Regions from separate parts of the Homo sapiens genome. Here regions 2, 3 and 4 are each linked to region 1. Evidence: fine-mapped expression QTL. A gene starts in region 1. Each other region holds a variant in brackets. All regions are shown on one strand. Distances are from middle to middle.

Evidence for each region. PIP is the estimated chance that this variant, and not a neighbour inherited with it, causes the effect.
Region 2: its variant is fine-mapped to the expression of PYROXD2 in blood mononuclear cells (TOPMed, PIP above 0.99).
Region 3: its variant is fine-mapped to the expression of PYROXD2 in blood mononuclear cells (TOPMed, PIP above 0.99).
Region 4: its variant is fine-mapped to the expression of PYROXD2 in whole blood (TOPMed, PIP above 0.99).

The regions. Positions count from the first base shown.
Region 1 is chr10:98,412,628-98,417,774 of GRCh38, reverse strand. It overlaps PYROXD2 (pyridine nucleotide-disulphide oxidoreductase domain 2), which reads left to right and starts at 2,593. Exons shown (of 16, transcript NM_032709.3): 1 at 2,593-2,766. The coding sequence starts at 2,640. It overlaps HPS1 (HPS1 biogenesis of lysosomal organelles complex 3 subunit 1), which reads left to right. Exons shown (of 20, transcript NM_000195.5): 20 at 49-1,577. The coding sequence ends at 211.
Region 2 is chr10:98,370,746-98,375,892 of GRCh38, reverse strand. No RefSeq gene overlaps it. Among named protein-coding and RNA genes, the nearest start is that of MIR1287, 22 kb to the left of the region's middle. RefSeq lists enhancers at 92-591, 592-1,093. The variant C/T (reference allele first, on the strand shown) is at 2,141.
Region 3 is chr10:98,384,731-98,389,877 of GRCh38, reverse strand. It overlaps PYROXD2 (pyridine nucleotide-disulphide oxidoreductase domain 2), which reads left to right. Exons shown (of 16, transcript NM_032709.3): 13 at 1,370-1,524; 14 at 2,571-2,677; 15 at 4,811-4,931. Among named protein-coding and RNA genes, the nearest start is that of MIR1287, 8.0 kb to the left of the region's middle. The variant C/T (reference allele first, on the strand shown) is at 2,538.
Region 4 is chr10:98,364,510-98,369,656 of GRCh38, reverse strand. It overlaps LOC105378449 (a long non-coding RNA gene), which reads right to left. Exons shown (of 3, transcript XR_001747305.2): 3 at 1,089-1,462. Among named protein-coding and RNA genes, the nearest start is that of MIR1287, 28 kb to the left of the region's middle. RefSeq lists a silencer at 1,211-1,505 and an enhancer at 1,039-1,657. The variant G/A (reference allele first, on the strand shown) is at 2,479.

The sequences.
Region 1 (5,147 bases):
GAGTGCCACAGCCTCACTCCTGAATCCCATCCTCCCCTTCCTCCCCAGGAAGCTCCTGCGCTACTACAGCAAGAACCGCCCAACCGAGGCTGTCAGGTGCTACGAGCTGCTGGCCCTGCACCTGTCTGTCATCCCCACTGACCTGCTGGTGCAGCAGGCCGGCCAGCTGGCCCGGCGCCTCTGGGAGGCCTCCCGTATCCCCCTGCTCTAGGCCAAGGTGGCCGCAGTCTGCCTTTGCATCCTGTCCTCCAGCCACCCTTGCTTGCCACTGTTCCCCATGACGAGAGCCTCCTGTCTGCAGTGGCCATCCTGAGGATAGGGCAGAGTGCCCAGGGTGGCCCCAGGGCTTCTAAAACCCCACCTAGACCACCCTCCATGTCAGGTACTGAGCAAGGCCCCAGATCCTTCTCTCTGGAGGAAGAGGGAAGCCCAGGGGTCCTGTTTGTAAAACAACGGTGGCAACAGCTCCTCTTCCAGAGCTGCCTCTGCCTTTATCCTGGGAGATGGGGAGGAAGCCCCATCTCTGCTGTTCCCTGCGTGGAGGAAGCCCACCCAGCAAGCTCTCTCCTACCCCAGGTAAAAGGTGCTCCTTTGCCTGGGTTTGAATTCCAGCGCTGCCACTTCCTCTCTGCACCTCCTGGCAAGTTTCTTCTATTCCCCACGTTTAAAGCGATGGCACCTCCGTCCCAGGGTGGTGTGAGGATTACCCAGTGTGGTAGGTGCTCAATAAATGTTGGTCATTGTTATCACTGAAGCCCAACATGCTAGTGCTTCTAGACCCTTCTGTCAGTGCTGATAAGCCCTTGCTAAGTCCCAGCCCCTTCATGCTTGGCTGGCGTCTGCCCTAGGGCTGGGGTTCTCAAGCCCCTGGCCCTGGCCCAGAGATTTGGATTCCCTTGGCGGCCGTGGAGCCCAGCCTTTGATGTCTTTCAAAGCTTCTGTGGTGCGCCCTGGATTGAGAACCACCACCCGAGGGGTACAGCCCCTCTCTTCCAACCGAGAAGTTCCTGTCCCAGAATGGACCCAGGGACAAGAGACCCTGAGAGCCCTGGGACTGGGAGTGTCTGCTCCTCTGAGGCCAGGAGGCCGGTGCTGGGCCAGAGAGGACGGCGTGGCGAAAGTCAGCGTCCACTGCAGCACAGGATCAGATGGCCGTGTGCTGTGCATGCAGGAGCCTCGCCTTCTGTGTCTTTAGTCTTGAGCCAAAATTTGCTCAAAGACTGATCTCTTCCTTGCAGGGAACAGCTTTGGGGCTGGGGGAACTAGAACCCACATGTTGGTCTAAACCCTGAGAAGGTGGCAGTGAGGAAGTATCCCCTCAGGTGACTGGATCTGTGTTCCTCCTTAACATCATCTGATGGAATGGCAATGAAAAGCGTGGATTGTGGAAAATACAGAAAAACATAAAGGAAAAAACTCCAATCCCCTGAGCCCACCACTGTTCAGGACCCCTGCTTTTGTCACCTACTATTTCCCTTTAGTTTTTAGCAGCGGCTGGATGTGATATGTCTAGTTTAACCAGTCCCCTTGATCTTTCTATATAATAAATAACACAGGAGTGAACATCCTGAATCAGATCTTAGCAGAGATGCTCACATGCGGGGTAACTGTCCATGGTGTGTGGAGGGGTCCTCGGAACCCCCTCTTAGGATCATCTCCACATACTCTCCCAGTTCTGAGATTCGTTACCAATAGCAGGTTTCCGTCACACTGCGATATCAGAGCAGTGCAGGAACTCTCCGCTCCAAGGGGTTTTTTCCTCCTAGGGGAACACTCTGCTAAGTAATGGGCAGAGAACAAAGGGGCTCCTAATTCAAGGCAGGCCTAAGGGAGGGTCAGAAAGAACTTTAGCTGGAGGTATTTACAGATGTGACCTCGAATCCTTGGGGATTCTTGGAAAATGGGCAAGGTGCCAAAAGAGGAGAACTGGCCAGGCCTTCAAAACTAAAACACCAGAGAATTACAGACAGCGAACTTGCCCCTAAGCCCTCGTTGTGGGTTTGTGTTTGAGCATTTAGGAGAGGACTCCAGTGCTCCTCAGCGACAGACACAGCTGCCTCTGCGGTGTCTGAAGGCCCTGGTCGTGGTGACGCTAGATGGCCGCCCTGGGCGCCTCCTGTGGGCGTAGAGGCATCACCACTCTGCACTGGCAGACTCAGCATGGAGTTGGAGCAGAGTCTGACACGAGCACTTGCCATCCCAGGCGTTTCAGTTCTGACTGAGAAGGTAGATGCACAGGGGAGGAGAGGGCCCTTTCGAGCTCCACTCTGCCTCCACCACTCATTCCCTAACCCCGCAGCCTCAGCGCCCTCATCTGTAAAATGGGGAGTTTTGCCTACAGGGTTCAGCACAATGCCAGCCTGACATAGGAACCCCAGTGGATTGTCAGTTTTGCCATTATCCCCTGCATCCTGGAGGTGACACCGCCTGGTTAATAGGCAACACTCCCGACGGCCCAGCACAGCCCCAGGGCAGCAGGAGGCTGGCCTGTGGCCAAGAATGCATGGTGGAGGGGGCCTGGAGGGGGACTGCAGCTCCTCCTCTTCCTGCTTCCTCCCTGCTCCACCCCGTGCCTAGGGCAGCACAAAAGCCAATCGCTAGCAAACTCCCTGCCTAGCAAGGCCCAGCCTGGGGCAGAAATGGCTGCAAGTGGCCGAGGTCTCTGCAAGGCTGTGGCCGCCTCTCCCTTCCCGGCGTGGAGACGAGATAACACGGAAGCCAGGGGAGGTCTGAAGCCTGAGTATGATGCGGTGGTGATAGGAGCAGGTAAAGTGGTAAAGCAGGCCGGGCCAGAGCTGAGGGGCGGGAAGACAGCCCTGCTCAGAGCTTGGTGGGGAGGGGGAGGGGGAGCCAAGCCCCACTGCTCTCTCCTCTGGCATAACCCAGCCAGAAGTTTATACGCTAGCAGGGGCTGCAATGGAAAGCCCTTCCATCTGGCAGGCAGGCACCTGGGATTCCGGTGCTGGCTCTGCTGTGTGGCCTGGGGCAAATGCTTGCCTTCTCTGGGCTTGGATCTTCCCATGGAGAATGACAGGAAGACTAGGTGAGCTCAGGGGTTTCCCTATATCTCTTGCAAAGTGACCTAGTTTCCACCACATTCTCAGCCTATGGTTTGTAAGGGTTGGAAAGAGCCCTGGGCCAACAGACAAGTGAAATCCAGCACCCCGCCCCCTCAGTGCCCTGAGTTCTGGTCACCACTACCTTACCACTGAGGCCACCCCTCGTCACAAGAAACTGCAGTCATTTCATAAAGGCCAGTTAGGATAAAACAGAACTGAGTCCCAGAGTTCCTACTGCGTGTCTGCAGAGGGAGATGGACCCCATTGCCTTGCAGCTCTGGGACATTTGGGGATCTGCAGTGATCTGCCACACTTTGCCAACCCCTGGGCTCAGAGTATCACAGTCTACTGGGTGCTAGGGGAAGAGGCAGGCCCAGGACCAGGTGGTCTTTCCTTAGTGCCTTCCTTTCACACTTGCAGAGGGCCCCAAATGCATGATTGCCAACTGGGTCTATACAGAGATAATGACGGGACCGAAAGCAGACGGCACTCAACATGCAGCTTTGAGGGCATGCCTTCATTTTCATATGTACTAGAGCAGTTGCGAGCTGGTAGATACTCAACACTCACCTCTCCAGGGAAAAATGTGTGATGTATGTGTGTGTGTACATGTATATATATGTATATATACACACATATATGTGTATATATATGTATATGTGTTACGTACATATATATACACATATACACATGCTTATTTTAAATATTGAAATAAAAGATACACTGCACACAATTTTACAAATAAAGATACAATACTCTCAATTTAAATGCAGTCTACCCGAGTGATTCTTACCAAAGGCTTTCTTTGATTTTTGCCAAACTCAGTAGCCAACCTATAGTTGCAAATGACAAATGAGGGTAGCTCCAAAGAGAACGGTGCTCCATATTTTCTGTAAAGAGTAGGATGATCGTGAAACAAATGAAACAACAAAGATTTATGTCCCAACCTTACTCCTTTATTTTTTAAAATTTATTTTTATTTTATTTATTTATTCATTTATTGAGATGGAGTCTTGCTCTGTTGCCCAGGCTGGAGTGCAGCGGCGCAATCTCGGCTCACTGCAACCTCCGCCTCCTGGGTTCAAGCGATTCTCTTGCCTCAGCCTCCCGAGTAGCTGGGACTACAGGCGCCCACCACCACGCCCGGCTAATTTTTGTATTTTTAGTAGAGACGGGGTTTCACCATGTTGGCGAGGCTGATCTCAAACTCCTGGCCTTGTGATCCACCTGCCTCAGCCTCCCAAAGGGCTGGGATTACAGGTGTGAGCCACTGCGCCCGGCCTCCTTCTTTAAATGACAGGAATGATGTTACTCAAATAAGATAATATTGTTCTAATACTAGAATATTTCCTTCAATTTTTGTGCTATTTATTCATGCTATAACAGCTAACACTGTTAGGTTTAATCTGCATTATTAGCATTTTCCCATCACTTTCTTAAGCCTGACCACAAAAAATAAATTCAGCCCTTCTGTGTAATATTTGCTGATGACAGTGGTGTAAATACTCCCACCATAGCCTTTTCTGTTACCAAGATGAGGTTGCTCAATGTGATTTAGGAGAGATACCCAGTAGCACATCATTGTATAGTGTGTCCACCATGCAGATATGTACATAGAGGCCAGTGACTGCCAGGGCATGGGCAACAGTCAAATGTAGTAAAACAAATAGGAGGTAGTGTGTTTTGAGTATTTATTACCTTTGTTTTTAATTTATTTAATTGTAAGCTTATATAATTTAGTTTATATCAATGGCTGTTTGACAGCCGGCTCACAAACTCCCCGGGCTGGTGGGAGCCATCTCCAGCACCTCACTTAGCCTCAGAGAAGCCCCCTGCCTCCTTCCGTGCTCAGCCACAGCTCACCCTGCTGTCTCCTAATGGGGAAGGTTGACTTTAGGTCACCAGCTGCCTTGGTGACTTGCCTACAAGTGCGAGTGAGTCTCAGTGTGTGAGCTTTTCCTTGACATGATTTCTTTAGTTGCTAAACATACCATAAAGCCTGGTTTAAAGGCATCTTGGGCCTCAGTGAGGAACAGAACGGCATCTTCTGAGACAAGGGTTACCTCTGAGTCCCTGAAGGCACACTGG
Region 2 (5,147 bases), 42 kb after region 1:
CATGAATCTGTGTGAGCACACTAGTGGAATTTGGAGAGACAAGCTGCCTGTTAATTGGTAGGGTCAGGAAGTATTTCTCACAGCAGAGGGGACTGAGCTAGAGTGGGGTCAAGGATGCACTAGACATGATGAGTGAAAAGAATAAGGTGGGCATTCAGGGTCTTCTGGGCACCATGTGACAACGGTGGGATGGAGGGATGGGCAGAGAGTTCAGAGCCACAGTCGGACGGGATGAGGATTGTGAAGAGCAAAGGCGAGAATAAGGCCGGATAAGAGGGTCAAGCTGCAGATGCCATGCCGGGCAGAAGGTGGCCTTCATTCTACAGCCAACATGGAGTTTGCTGGAGGAGGTATGGGGATTTTACACACATGGGAGGACGTCCAGTCTGTTAGCCTGTTAAAGTGGCCACATTTGCAGTGTTGGCAGAGGCCAGGGGACAAACTCTTGGGCTTCCTCCTCCCCACCTCCCCTCGCCCTCTCCCAAGGACTCAAATGAGCAGTTGAGATATGGACATGAGTTGGGAGTGGGAGCTTCTCACTTGGAGGCTAGAGCCAGATCTTCAGACTACTACACCCCTCTGTCTGCCAAGCCCAGGTGCTCAGTGGAGGGCCATGAACAGAGGCCAGCGTGGCTCCTTCTCATCTCCATAATACAGCCATGTTCTCTGCAGCCTCAATGCAAACAGCTCCTCATTCACCTCTGCCACAGACAGAAGACGGATCCTGGCTGTGGAACCTGGATCTGGGAAGCTTTAGTGGCAGCACCTGTTTTTGGCTGGAGGTGTTTGTAACACCTTGTAGGTATTGTCCCCTGGGGCAGCATGGACCCCTCTACCTGCTTTGAGACTGTGGATGACCTGCATCTCATCAAGGACCGAGGCAGATGGGGACCTGGGCCTGGATTTCTACTACAGAAGCCAGAGACTCATCTGCACGCTGCAGAAACTGGAGCAGCCCATATTTGGAGTTAGGAAGAAGTTTAATAATAGTACACAAACTTCCTTGGAAAGGGCTAGCCTAAAGGGGAACTGGTTATTAGGAGAAAAAAAAAACCACCGCTGTTTTTACAGTAACCCTCCTCAGTCTATAATGAGCAAACCTCTCTTCTGTATAGAGCAGCCTCCTAATGTGAGTCACTCCAAGACTTGGCTTCCAACCGCTGCCCCTTAGCCCAGGAAGCAGGAGCACAATGGAGCAGCCAGGTGTCAATTACAGGAGACGGTCAGGGCAGGAAGCAAGGTGAGTTATAATAGGAGAGCAAATTAATTTCACATAAGTAGGATTAGTAGTTAAATAAATAGAAGTCCCACCACTAACCCTGTCTGGAATGCTGAGTGTCTGTCCCCCACCAGAGGACAGAAAAAGCTCACAGCTGAGCAGGAATCAGGTCACCACAGGGTTACCTACCCACTGTTAAGGACGACCCCCTGGAAATGTAAAGCAAGGACATGGTTTAGAAAAGACACTCTGAGCCGGGAAAAAGAGATGGTATGTAGGGAAAGATGCCTCCCACTGATGGCTTAGTCATCTATGACAGGGCCACGATGCAGTGTGAAGCAGCTGTACCTAAGAACAGTCTGAGCAGTGGAGGAGGGGTCACCCAGGATTTGGGGTAAATTGCGGGTGGTGAATTCTAAGGATGACTCCATCAGGAGCTTCCATTCCAGGCTGAGTTTGTGTTGGCTTTATTTTTAAATTGTCAACCTCTTGTTTGTTCGTTTGGGCTTTTTAAAGCTTCTGTCCCTTTCCCAGTTTTCAAGTGACCTTTGTTCAGGTGAGTGGAGTCCTGGGTTCCTTGGGACTTCAGGGGCTGAGGGAGCATGGAGGGGAGACCAGGGCTCGAGGTGAGCCAGGTCAGGGCAGCCGGGTTCCAGATCTACAAAGTAGAGTCAGTCATACATCACAGCATTGCTGTGAGGACTAAGGTAAATTAAGTCCAAAGCAAAAAGCCCCTAATGAGAGTTCTGACAGCTGGAGATAAGCTTGAAAATAAGCAGCAGCTTTCTGTCCTCCTCTCCTGCCTTCCTGTCATGCAATGGAGCCAGAGAAGAGAATTCATAGCGGACACTATGCAAAGGAGGCTATACACAAAATCTTCCTAGGGCGGGAGGAACTGCCTGCCGGTTAGGGAATTCTCAG[C/T]AAGGACCTCCGGGGAAGCTTCTGAGCTGCTTCTGACTCTGCATTGGCTTAGGATTTTGAGCACGGTCAGGGTGGATCTGCAGCCTCAAGCTGTAAGAGGTAGGGCAGTCTAGGAGTCCTTAACTCAGGGGTTCCTAAACTTCTTTGACTATATCCACTTGAGTGGGGCCAAAGGACACAACGTCTCACCAGTTCCCCCTCTCTCCTGAGTTTGGTAATTATAGGTGTGGGGCTTATGGGAAGGAGAAGAGGATCGCAGAGGAACCAAACAGACATATTGCACTAAACCTGCTGAGCAGGCAGTATACACGGTTCACTTCCTATTTATGTTAAAGAAAAATCTGCCATTGTACACTTGATTTTATATTATAAATGAACGCCCCATGATCTCAAAATAACCCTACTAATTTTATTATGCTAACCTTGATTGCAAGACGAAAGTGATGAAAAAAAAATAGCACAAATTCACCGGCAAGGAAGCCACCAATGAAGTGTCCTTCTATAATAGGGTGACCGACCGTGGGAGTTTGCTCAGGATTCTCCCAGCTTTAGCATTGAAAATTCTACATTCCGGCAAACCTCTCAGTCCTGGGCAAACCACCATACAAGCAAAATATAAAGGGATCATGTATACACCTCCCTTAGCAGTAGGGGTACATGAGTGATGAATTATTCAACTGCAATTCATTTACATATAATGTCTAGAAATTGCACAATTTTATAATAAAAGCCAAAAATTATCAAAGTAAATACTTATTACTACCCATTCTAGGACAACCCCAAACTCTCGCCAGACTCAATGGATAATGAGGGCACAAAACCAATAGTAACTTATAAATATAAAGTATGAATAAAAGCGGTTGAAAACCATGATAACTCAAAATAACTGCTGAAGAGCTAACGAAACAGCGTTTTTCCAAATCTTGGGGAAATTCCAACTATGTAAAGTATAGTGTAGAATAACAAATTGGAGTCCTCAGTAAATCCCAGGAACACTAATTTTAGTTTATGAATACCAAATTTTTGTGGGTTAAAAGCTTTACTTGTACATAAGAAGTAAAGTCTGGGGGCCACCTCTGTGACCCACCTGGAGGAACCACAGGAAAGATTTGCGTGCTTGGGTCACTTCATAGTCATCAGAATGATACTCAGGTCCCACTTTGAGAGTCACTGCATTAGCTCAATTAATAAATGAGAAAACAGAGGCCCCGAGAAGTCAAGTGACTTTTCCAAAGCTACAGGTGCCATGGGTCCTCCAAGGAAGGTTCTCTGAGGGCTGGAGAGGTGTGTTAGGGGGCAGAGGTAGGATTTTAAAATAGTTTGTCTGTCTTAGTCACTCCCTCCACATACATCTGACATAGTGAAAGAGCACTGGTCCTCTTGAACCCTCATAGGGCTTGTTAGGGTCTAATTGTGTCCCCCAAAAAGACATGTTGAAGTTTTGACCCTCAGTACCAATCAACGTGACCTTGTTGGGAAACAGGGTCTTTGCACATGGAGTCAAGATGAAGTCCTAAGGATGAGCCCTAATCCTATATGATCATGTCCTTATAAAATGAGGGAAGTTGGGACACACACACACACACACACACACACACACACACACACAGTGCCTTATGAAGACACAGACACAGGGAGAAGACGGCTGTGTGAAGTGGAGGTGGAGATGGGCGGGATGCTGCCACAAGCCAAGGGTGTCTGGGGTGACCATGGAAGAGGCAAGAAAAGATCCCCCCGCCACCCCCCAGGAGGTTTCAGAGGAAGTGTGGCTCTCCTAACACCTCGAGTGTGGTCCTCTGGCCTCCAGAACTGTGGGATAATAAATTTAAACCACCCAATTTGTGGTTCTTTGTCATAATAGCCCAGAAGACAAATACAGAGACTCGCAGTTGCTCCCCGTGCCTGGCCTGGGTACTCTCCTTCTCACACTCTCTCTGCAGCTGGTTGGGAGCAAAAGCCTCAGGGAAAAGTACAGATCCTCTGGTTTCTCTTTGCCATGTCTCCTCCATGCCTGCCTTAGTAGCATCAGAGAGTGTGCCCCTGGGAGGGGACGCAACTCGGGCATGGAGCGGGTGGCCCAGTATCAGAGACCGTGTCATGCAACAGGAGGGCAGGGGAGCCCGGCTGGCACCCCTTGTCCCTGAGGGTGCTGGGAGGATGAATGCCTCTTCCCGGTCAAGTGCTTCCAGCAGAGACACTTGACATTTTCCTGTCCACACACCATTTGGCAAGGACGAGAGCTCCGATGGGCCATCCTGACCTTTGCTGTATTTTTCTAGGATAAAAGCAAAGAGCTCATCAGATTACAGGGGAAGGGGCCTGCTTCTGCAGAAACTGAGCACGGTATACCTTCCCTTGTTTTACCTTTAACATCTTATAGAGGCAACATAAAGACTTGGTTGAGCTGCAGCTCTGTGATTTGCCTGCCTGTGAACTTCCACCCAGAGGCGAGCACAAGCCCCCAGGGACTGGGATGGCACCAGCCAGGGCAAGGTCGATCTTTATAAATACTCACCAGATGCAGAGTATGATCCCAGTTTTATAAAATAAATGCACTTATGTGTCTATCTGCATATTGAATTGTCTGGAAAGAAAGCGCCAAATGTTATCTATCCAGGGGAGAATTATAAATGTTATTTTACTTCTGTTTATCTCTTTTCTAATATTGCTGCTATAAACAGGAAGGAATGATGTAATAAAAACGGCCAAAAGACAAAAATTATCCATGGTTACGGCTTCTGAGTGCAAATTTTGTTCATATTTCTGAGTGCCTGATAGATAAACAAAAACACCAAAAGAGAGAGACATAATGATATAGCTACACATAATACACAATATTAACCCTTTCTTACTCCAGAAAGGATAAAGATGCTTTTTCCAGTGAAACACTTTTTTCCTCTAGTCTGATGATCCTGTGTTTACAATACTGTGATTTCACTTAACATGCTATCAAGCATTTCCCCATGGTGTTCTAAACCTTTCCATTCATCATTATTATATGTTACTT
Region 3 (5,147 bases), 28 kb after region 1:
CCAGGCTTGGTTCAGTGAGTGGGCACAGATCAGCAAGCAAAGCCAAGAAAGTCTCAGGTCGTTGACTCTCTATCCATGAGAGGAAGACAATCAACAAGTAAGCACTGATGATGAGCACTGTGGAGAAAAATAGGCAGGGAAGGGGAGGAAAGGCTTCTCTAATAACGTGGCACTTGAGCGGAGACCGGAAGGAAGTGAGAATACAGATCTTATGGGTATCTGGGGAAAAAACGTCCAGACAGAGGGAAGGTCAGGTGCAAAGGCCCTGGGGCAGGAGTGTGCTGCTGTATAGGAGGCACAGGGACGAGGCCAGAGTGGCTGGAGAGAGAGCACCTGGGAATGAAGGGTCTCGGATGGTGCTGGGTCTTGTCAAGTGCCCTGGCTCTTACTCCAGGAAAGTTTGTGCAGAGCCTGCCTTATGCTTTAAAAAGACCAACCTGGACACTGTATGCAGAAAAAGTTAAGGCATCTGTTGCAATGGGTTACTGTTGCAGAATCCAAGGGAGAGAGGACAGTGGCTTGGACAAGGGTGGGGGCAGGGGAAGTGATGAGAAGTGTTGGAAGACTGGGTATGTTTTGAAGGTGAAGCCAACAGGACTTTCTGTTGGATAGGGAGTGGGATGTGGGTCAAAAAAAGGAGCGACTGTGAAATGATGCCTCCATTTACTGAAAAGAGGAAGAGGCGGTGGGGGTGGAGCAGATTTTAGAGGCTAATCAGGCATTGGGGTTTGAACAGGGGATGTTTGAGATCCCTGGTGGACATCCGAGTTCAGCGAGAACATTGCAGCTGAGGGACGCAGGGAGAAGGGGCATTTCCCGTGGCCTTGAAGGAGACTCATATTTGGAGATCAGAGGGAGAACATGCTCCAGGTAGAAAAGGTGTGGCAGGCAAAGGTGGTGGGGTGGGAAGCAGGTCACAGCTCTGCTGGGGCTCGGGGCAGCCCTAGCAGCTCTGTCTTCCATTGGTCTGCTCTGGAAAAGACAGTCAGGCCACTAAAGCCTGGCTGAAATCTGGCTGCTTGGGCGCCTGCTGTCTTAGGCCTGGCCCCTTTCCACACTCCCACTGTCTGTGTGGACCTTCGAGACATTTGCGTTTGGGAGCTGTGGTTAGAGCACAGCGTGTGATGAAGGCAGGCAAGGACAGGCCATGCATTCGGGGGTCTGGGGTCAGGCGAGCTCCTCACAGGTGCTCTGGACCACGCTAGCAGCCGCTAAGCCCGTGCAGGTGGACAACCACTGTGGCTGTAGAGCGACAATCGCCCAGAATTGGTGTCATCTCAGGGCCTCCACTGTGTCCCAAGTCATCTCGGATGCCCTACCCTCCGCACTGCTGCTCTTTAGACCTGCCGTCTCCTCCCTGCCCGCACAGGCCTGTGATTGAGCTCTGCATCCCTTCCTCGCTGGACCCCACCCTGGCTCCCCCTGGCTGCCATGTAGTCTCCCTCTTCACTCAGTACATGCCCTATACGCTGGCTGGAGGCAAGGCCTGGGACGAGCAGGAGAGAGACGCTTATGCAGACAGAGGTAAAGACAGCTGCACGTTCTGCCTCCAGAGCCACAGCCGGGCATGCGACCCAACTGGGCCTGCTCCTCCTCACTGCCCCATTCAGGATTGACAACTGCAGGTGCCATTCCAAAGGGAGGAAATAGTCAAGGGAACCTCAAGTCAACATAGTTGACTGCAGGGGTCAGGAACTGGGCTAAGAAAGTCAAGAAGACACAGTTCCTGCCCTCCAGTTGCTCACAGTCTAGCAAGGGATGGAGGAGACTAATTAAGAAACCTTTTATTACAGCACAGCTGACTGCACGAACCAAAGGAGACGCATGAGCCAGAGAGACAAGGAAGGCTTTCAAAGGAAGGGATGGTCAAGCTGGGTTTCCAAGGATGACTAGGAGCTGGCCAGGCAGCAAAGGGCATTCCAAGCAAGAGAAACAGCTTGATCAGGCCAGGCGTGGGGGCTCATGCCTGTAATTCCAGCACTTCGGGAGGCCGAGGCAGGCGGATCACCCGAGGTCAGGAGTTCAAGACCAGCCTGACCAACATGGTGAAACCCCGTAGCTACTAAAAACATAAAAAAATTAGCAGGGTGTGGTGGCACATGCCTGTAATCTTAGCTGCTCAGGAGGCTGAGGCAGGAGAATCGTTTGAACCCAGAGGCGGAGGTTGCAGTGAGCTGAGATTGCGCCACTGCACTCCAGCCTGGGTGACAGAGTGAGACTCCGTCTCAAAAAAAAAAAAAAAAAAAAAAAAAACAGCTTGAGAAAAGTGAAGAGGTGAAAAAAGCTGCATATGCAAAAGGAGATCAGCAGCTTCGTGTTTAAGGTTGGGGTAGGGAAGTGGGGAAAACTGGGGACTGGACTGGCCTACCCATGCATCTTTGGGATGAATTAATCATTTGCTTGTGGACTGATTTTTGTTTTTCACCTATTGAGGTATAATTTGCATATGATAAAATAAGCCCATTTCTGTGTGTAATTTAATGACTGTTAGTAAATTTGCCAAGTTGTACACCCATAGTGCCTCCTCTTCTTCCTAA[C/T]ACCATCTCATTTCTCTGTTTTTGGCACCCCAGTGTTTGATTGCATCGAGGTCTATGCCCCTGGCTTCAAGGACTCTGTGGTTGGCAGAGACATCCTCACACCACCAGATTTGGAGAGAATCTTCGGGCTTCCTGGAGGGGTATGTATAAGCCTAGGGGGTCTCTCACCATAGCCTTCCCTCTGCACCCTCACTTCCTGGCTATGACCTCTCTGCTTTATCTTGTCCCTCCATACTCAGCTTTCATCAGGAAGGGAGGACAGTGGCAGGGACCCCGGCTGAGAGAGGGCAGAGAAGCGGTCAAACCGAGGGAATGGGGGATCCCTAGTGGGGGCTCAGAAACACAGGCAGGACAGCCCCCACTGAGAAGGTCACCAGGATTGTGGCCCTCTGCCTTGACAACTATGCTGGCTCTGCCATCTGACTTTCTTGAGAGAGAGCACCCCCTTCTCAAGGCAGCAGCACATCCTCAGACTTGTCAATTTATCAAAAACTAGAGATTGGAGACAGGGAGACCAGATAGGAGGCCAGGTTCAATCGCCTCATTGCAGCTACTGAGCACTTGAAAGATCAGAGACCACCCTAGGCAACGTAGTGAGACCCCATCTCTACAAAAACAAAAACCCCGCCAGGTGTGGTGGTGCGTACCTGTGGTTCCAGCTACCCAGGAAGCTGAAACAGGATGATCGCTTGAGCCCAGGAGTTTGAGACTGCAGTGAGCTGTGATGCGTCATTACACTTCAGCCTGGGCAACAGAATGAGACCCTATCTCTAGAAAGAAAATTTAAAAAAAAAGCAAAAGAAAGATCTGAGGCCAAAGTGAGATGTGCTGCAAGTGTAGAATGCACACAGTATAGAAAAAAATGTAAAATATCTCATCAATAAGTTATATATTGATTACATGTTGAAATTATAATATTTTGGATATATTGGGCTAAATAAAATATATTATTGACATTAGTTTCATCAGCTTGCCCTTCCTTCCTTCCTTCCTTCCTTCCTTCCTTCCTTCCTCCCTCCCTTCCTTGTTTCCTCCCTCCCTCCCTCCCTCTCTTCCTTCTAGAGATAGGTCCTGTTCTATCACCCAGGCTGGAGTGCAGTAGTGCAATCACGGCTCACTGCAGCCTCGACCTCTGGGGCTGAAGCCATCCATCCTCCCACCTCAGCCTCCTGAGTAGCTGGGCCTACAGGCATGCACCACCACACCTGGCTAATTTTTTTTTTTTTTTGTAGAGATGAGTCTCCCTGTGTTGTCTAGGCTGGTCTCAAACTCTGGGGCTCAAGTGATCCTCCCACCTTGGCCTCCCAAAGTGCTGGGATTGCAGGCATGGGCCACCACAACCGGCTCTGCTTTTACTTTTTAAATGTAGCTACTAATAAATCAAAAACTACATATGTAGCTCCCATTACATGTTCACTGAACAGCACTGGTCCAGGTATAGAGGAAAGAAGGCCAGGCAGCGGGAAGGAAGGGAATGGCTGGGTACAGCAGGCATGGGGCGGGCAGACTTGAGAAGCCTTGGTGACAGTGTGCACATAGGAGTCAGGGTGGAGGTGATGTGAAGGGTAGGCACAGAGGCCAGGGGGAGGAAGGTGGTGTCATTCACTTATGCAGGAGGATGGGGAGGAGCAGACTCGAGGGAAGAGGATGGCCTCAGTTTGGGGAAAGGTGAAGAGGGCAGTGGGGGAGCACTCCTGTGAGGATGCCCAACAGACGTCAGGCTTCTTGTCCAGACCTGCCCCCTGAGTCTGACCTTCGCTTGTCCCATGCTGCCTCCCTTCTCAGCCTGGGGCTGGTCTCACCCAAGCCAGGGGGGCAGAACCGTGCTCGGGCTCCGTTGCCCCTTGTCTGCCATTCACAGTGATCCTGCTGGAGCTTGGACACCGGGGTCCGGGCTCAGGTGGATGCCTTGGCCAGAGAAGGGAGTTCTCGCAGAGACGCATGCCAACAGCCACAATAAGTCAGACAATTCTGTTTTTCCAACAGAGGGAGAGGGATGCAGAGTAGAGAGCAAAACCCTCTTTTCCTTCCCGTTCAGTTCGTGTTCCCCACCCTGCTTTCTTCCTCAAAAAGCCTCTGGAAAACTTCACTCCCAGCCCCAGGGCATGTGCCCATTCCGTCTCATCTCCTTCCCTTTCTGCATTTTAAAACCCAAGAAAATATCCTGGAAGGAGAAGAACATTTGCTGAAGAACAGGGGAGGGGAAGAAACCCAGCCAGAGCAGGAAAGGCTGTAACTCTCCTGTGCTGATGACTGTGGCCCTGCCTCTGCAGAACATATTCCACTGCGCCATGTCCCTGGACCAGCTCTACTTCGCCCGCCCCGTGCCCCTGCATTCTGGCTACCGCTGCCCTCTCCAGGGCCTGTATCTCTGTGGAAGTGGGGCTCATCCTGGTGAGTGACCTGGAGTCCCACTACCCTGTGGGGACTGGGAGGGCTCACTGGAGGCCAGAGACTTGGAGAAGGAGGAAGTTAAGCAATGAAGGTGGCAGAGAGGGAGGGGAGCAGGGAACTCCCAACATAAGCTGCCCTGTGTTCAGAATTATCCATGCACAGGTGAGCACACAGCCGCTGCCTCCACCAGGCTGACCACAGCCCACAGTTGAGCTC
Region 4 (5,147 bases), 48 kb after region 1:
ACGCTGCCCCTCCTCCCTTGCTTGTGGCCAGCGTCACCAGATGATCACTGCATTCTCACGGGCAAGGCCTAGACACGGTGTTGATAGGGCTGGCAGCTAGGACAGAAAACTATTTGCTGTTCCTGGTCTTGATGGTGTTAAATATCTTCTTTTAACTCTGATATTCTGTGAATGTTTTTCCAAATTATTCCATTTTTACCTTTTTAATTTAAAATCTGAGTTACGTATGATTGCAAACAGAACCTACGAAGTCTCTGCAATTACTAACACAAATCCTGACAGAGCAATCCTGGCATGAAAAACTGAACATCTCTGCAGTGACTGATGTGGAGCAGCAGCAGCTGGAAGTTGGGATATGAGACCAGCAACGAATGCACAGACAATACCTCCAAACCGGGCAGAAACAGAGACACTTCCTTCACCACACTTGGCTGGGATTTTCACCAATCCGTGGTGAGGAGTGATTGGAAATTAATCTCAGAATCCCACTGTGCGTTTGTAGTTCACAACATATAATTATGCCTAAGTTTACTTTATAGTAAACCATATATAATTCTCATTCCACAGTGCAGATTCTGCCTCAGACAATCCTTTTATTGTTTTTAGAAGCCCTGTGGTAAAAGCCTTACTGGATGATATCATTTTAATTATAAATCTCTACTGGAAGGTCCCCCAAGCGACTGCAGTAGACAAAATTCCAATTCCCAAAGTCAAGGGCCAGGTAATTTAAACCCTGTCCAAAATGCTGCTTTAATAATACTTAGTTTTGACTGGGGAACTACATGTTATAGCAGCATCGGAGAGCTTATACATACAGGCCCTGATACACACACATATCTGTGCTAGGTGCTGGGGATACAGCAAAAAATAAAACAATGTTCATAGCCTCAAAAATCCTCCAGGTAGTAAATAAACCATGAAGATATGAGTCACACTAGGACCTTTTTTTTCTTTCTTTCTTTTACTCACTACTATACCAAAGAGGAGAGTATGAGGATAAGAAGAGAAGGTCTGGAACAATCACTAAAGGACAAGGATGAGGGAGATGATGAGAAATTAGTAAAAGGACTGATGTAAGACCACACTCATATTGTTATGGACCAAGTCCATGGAATCTGTATTAAACACTTAGAATAAAGAGACAAGAGGACTGGCCCTTCTGTTTCACGCTCCAGGAGCGTAAGTGGTGCAAATAGTGAGATTCCAGCAGAGGATTTGGATGGGGTTGCACATTAGGATGTTAGGCGGCAAGTCCCCTGTAGAGCGTGCAGATGGCTTGAAGTGGTGCATGTGAATGAGGAGAGGAATGCGCATCCTCCTGGACTGGGGGAGATGGAGCTATTAGGGAGCGATGTCTGAAAGGCTCATCTTGGAGCACAGCTGCAGGAAGCAGAGCCAACGCGATACAGCAGGCGCTCAAATGGGGCCGTTTCATCAGGTTCCATCTCTGTGCAGTGCCAGCCTGTGGAAGGAAAAAAAGGGAAACTTGGAGACAACCCAGCTTTGTGAAGGCTCAGCCTCAAGAAGCCTCATTGCCAGGAAAGGCTTAGCAGTTGGGTTCTCAGTAAAGAAGACAGAGCTTAGATGAGGCTAATCAGGGCTTTTCAAATTACCGGTTGAATGTATAACTCTGCCCTTGGGCCATTTGGCCTTGGAATGGGTGAAAGGATGTGGTGGAGTTTCATCTATTCACAGTGCTTGAAGTAGAGAGCAAGCTGGAAGCACAGAGGACCCCATTGCCCGGACTTTCACCCTCAACTCCTCCAACCCCCGCTCTTGTTACGGCAGCGTGCAGCCGCCTTCGGCCTCCTGCCACACTCCCAGAGCAGCCTGGCCTCGCTTGGTAATAGTGAAAAGGACCACAATGCCTCTCTGTATCTTGTATGGCTCTCACCGTTTACAAGCTGATGACAATTTTTATTTCATTTGATGGAACAACATACAGATGGAGGCAGAGTACGCGTTATCCCCCTACTGTGCAGCAGAACAGACTGAGGCTCAGAGAGGAGGTGGGCATTTTCTCTCTTACAGCTGGTAATGGTGTTAGAATTCCAACTCAAGAAGTTTCACTCTAAAGACCACTGCCCTAGGAGGAGTCTTTATAAAACAGTGTGTCCAGAGTGTTGATTGTAAGCTGCTCATTGTTCTGCAAACTTACTGCACGGAGTTTTTGAATGAGGACTAATTCCTGAGAGGAGAAATGCTTCCTCCCAGAAGCCAGGTTTGGAAGAGGTGGGGGCCCAGCCCGTCTCTGTCAGATGGAACTGGTGGTGACAATGGTGGCCATTTCAATGTCATGAGAAAGACTCAACCTGCGGGGCTCAGCCCTAATGCAGTTTGGGGCAGATAGAATCAGCCCCTGATACCTGCAGGCAGCACCTAAAAAGTTCCTGCGTGGTTGTCATCTGTGGTTTGGGTGCTCTGTGTCCGTGTCCCCTTTGTTTGATAACAGCATTGGGAGTTGGAGCTCTCTCCTCC[G/A]TCATGTGACATGTTGGTGTTCTTAGCTCCCTTGACTTAAGGGTAGGCAAGTGACCCCAATACAACAAATCAGACTGTTTCCTGGGATTCTCTCCTGCACAGAGAGTGGGGGAAATGTTTGGAGCATATTTATTTCAGGGGCAGAATCTCAAGTAAGCTGTCAATTAATTTCTCCTGCCCAGACCCCAGAACACTGTGGTTCTTGACCCTGCTCTCCTACAGTCTACTGGATTCTGAAAGCCACCTGGCGCCCCTCCAATCAAACCTTTTCCCATCTAAGATAGCTAGAATCAGTTTCTGTTGCTTGCAACCAGAGAACAATTGGTGGTCTCCACTTCCCTTCTATTTCCCTTCATTTTCTCTCTCCTCTAGTCCCCTCTCAGGGGGAGCAGAAGATTAGAAAGGAAAAAGTCCTGAAATCGAAGCCAAAAATCTGAATTTGAATCTAGTCCCTGCCACCTCACAGCTGAGTGATCTCAGACAAACTAACCTTTCTGAAAACTCACGAAACATGTGAGTGCTGATGCGAACGTCACCTGTGTGTTGTGAGGGCTACGTGAGGTAATATATACAGGCCCCAGGGTAGCACCCAGCACATATTCGCACCTTCCTTCCTTCCTACTTTTCAGCTCTGCTCCCCGCCCTCCCCGTCCTGGTCATTTCCATCTCTCCACCTCTCTCTCCTTTCCTCTTTCATCTCCCTCTCTTGTAGCACCTCCATCTCCTGTCTCAGCAAGTAACCAGCAAGCTGATGACATTCGGGGCCAGGCCTCAGCTTAACAGCAAGTTCACAGTGAGCTACACACACACAGGACACGTGGAATGGTGCTTTGGTCAACAGGTCAGGAGACGTCAGGTCAATGAGAAACAGCTTCGGAGAAAAGTAAGAATAGGAAGGAATTCATAAAGCTGAGGGTGAAGCTGTTTGCCCTGGGGGAAGAAGACAGAATGAAAGCAGGATCTATACTCCTTCCCTGACCTATAAAGGGAGCATTGTCTTAGGTACTTTGGGAGAAAAAGAGGATAGGCCCAGAAATATGCCCTATGAAGAAGGGTAAAAAAGCTGGCACCCTGGGCACCAAGCGAGACAACTACCCCTTTTCATTTGGGGATAAAGAGGGCAGTGAGTCTGTGGCCAGGCGGGTGGCGGGTGGGTTCAGGTGAAGTGGGAAGTTCCGGCTTCGTCAGGCTGGCTCCGGGTCAGGCGGTGTGCGGCTGAGCAGGTCTTTCCTGCTGTGCTTCTATTTCAGGGTGTGTGTAAGATGAGGGGTCACCGAGGCTGTGTGCAGGCCTCTGCGCCTTACCCAGCGGGGTATGTGGGCTCCTGGCTGTGGCCAGGCCTCAGGAGGTCAGCCGGCCACTGAGACACCAGGGCTGTCTGGCACTGGAGGCCTGGGCTGCGCAGATCCCATCCTGCTGTTTTGGCTGCTGTGAGCAGCTCCTGCTCTTCTCTCCCACCTGCTTTCCTCTGAGTCCCTGTCCACTGAACTTGAAAACTGCAATTTTTTTTTGGTCTTCAGTGACAGTTAGCAATTGACTTGGCTCCACACAGCCACCAACAACCCAGGAGGCAGGATCCTTCTATGCAGAAAGACGGACGGAAGTTCTGACGGGGGGCCTGACTTGCACTTCCTTTGTTCTGAGCCAGAATTCAGCTCAGATGACGCCTCCATCAGGGGACCTTGTGAAATTCAGATGCACCTGCCCAAGTGAGCACCACCGTTTGGGCCACGTCAGTGGGCATTCTGAGGCTTTGTATCAGATGAGAGCTGTCTGAACGGGGCCTTTCATGTGGCCCATCTAAAGCTGTGTCTCTACGTAAGCACTTTCAAAATTGTTAAAAAACAAAAAAAGAAACAAAACAAACAAACAAACAAAACCTCAACTGTGTGTGAAAGCATGGAAAGGGTTTGGGTGGCCTGTGAGCCCTCAGAGGGCAAAGCCTGACATTGGAAACGGAAAAAGGAAAAGGTTTTTTTCACACGCCCCCACCGCTGAGGCCATCAGCATCTGGGACTCTGGTCCCATGCATCACATCGCTTCCCCTTCTCCCTCCTTTTTCTCTTCATCCCCAGTGGTGAGGAATATAGAACTGGCGTACCAGAGGATATCATCGCTGGTGATACATGTTGGCCTGGAGAGAGACCATGCCCCCTTAAGTAAGGAGCAGGATCCACTTCGTAGCTTCATTCACAGGCTTCTGTTTGATCTCCTGTAATTCTCACTGTGACTCACTTATGTCATACTCAGAGTCACTCTCAGAGGGGCAGGCTCCGCCCCGCTCCCCAACTCAGCAGGTACGAATCCCCACTCCAGCACCTGCTAACCACATGGGCTAGTGACCCACGTCTCTGAGTGATGCTTCTTCATCAAGGGACAGGGATGCCAGCACTTCAGAGAATTGTTGTGAAGCTTAAATAAGATGAAAAGTAAAGCATTTGGCACATAGCAGGTGTTTAATAAATATCAGTTCCCTTTCCATGGTTGACTGATGATAGTAAAGGCCACAGTTTGCTCCCTGCCCCCACACCCTTTGGTGGGGCCTCCCACACTGACTGTGGGCTTGGCCTCCCACACTGATGCTTTGGCCAGTGGGACAGTAGTGAAAGGGAAAATCAGGAACACGTGAGAAGTGGAGAGCCCAGCGGAGCACAGTAAATTATTTTAGG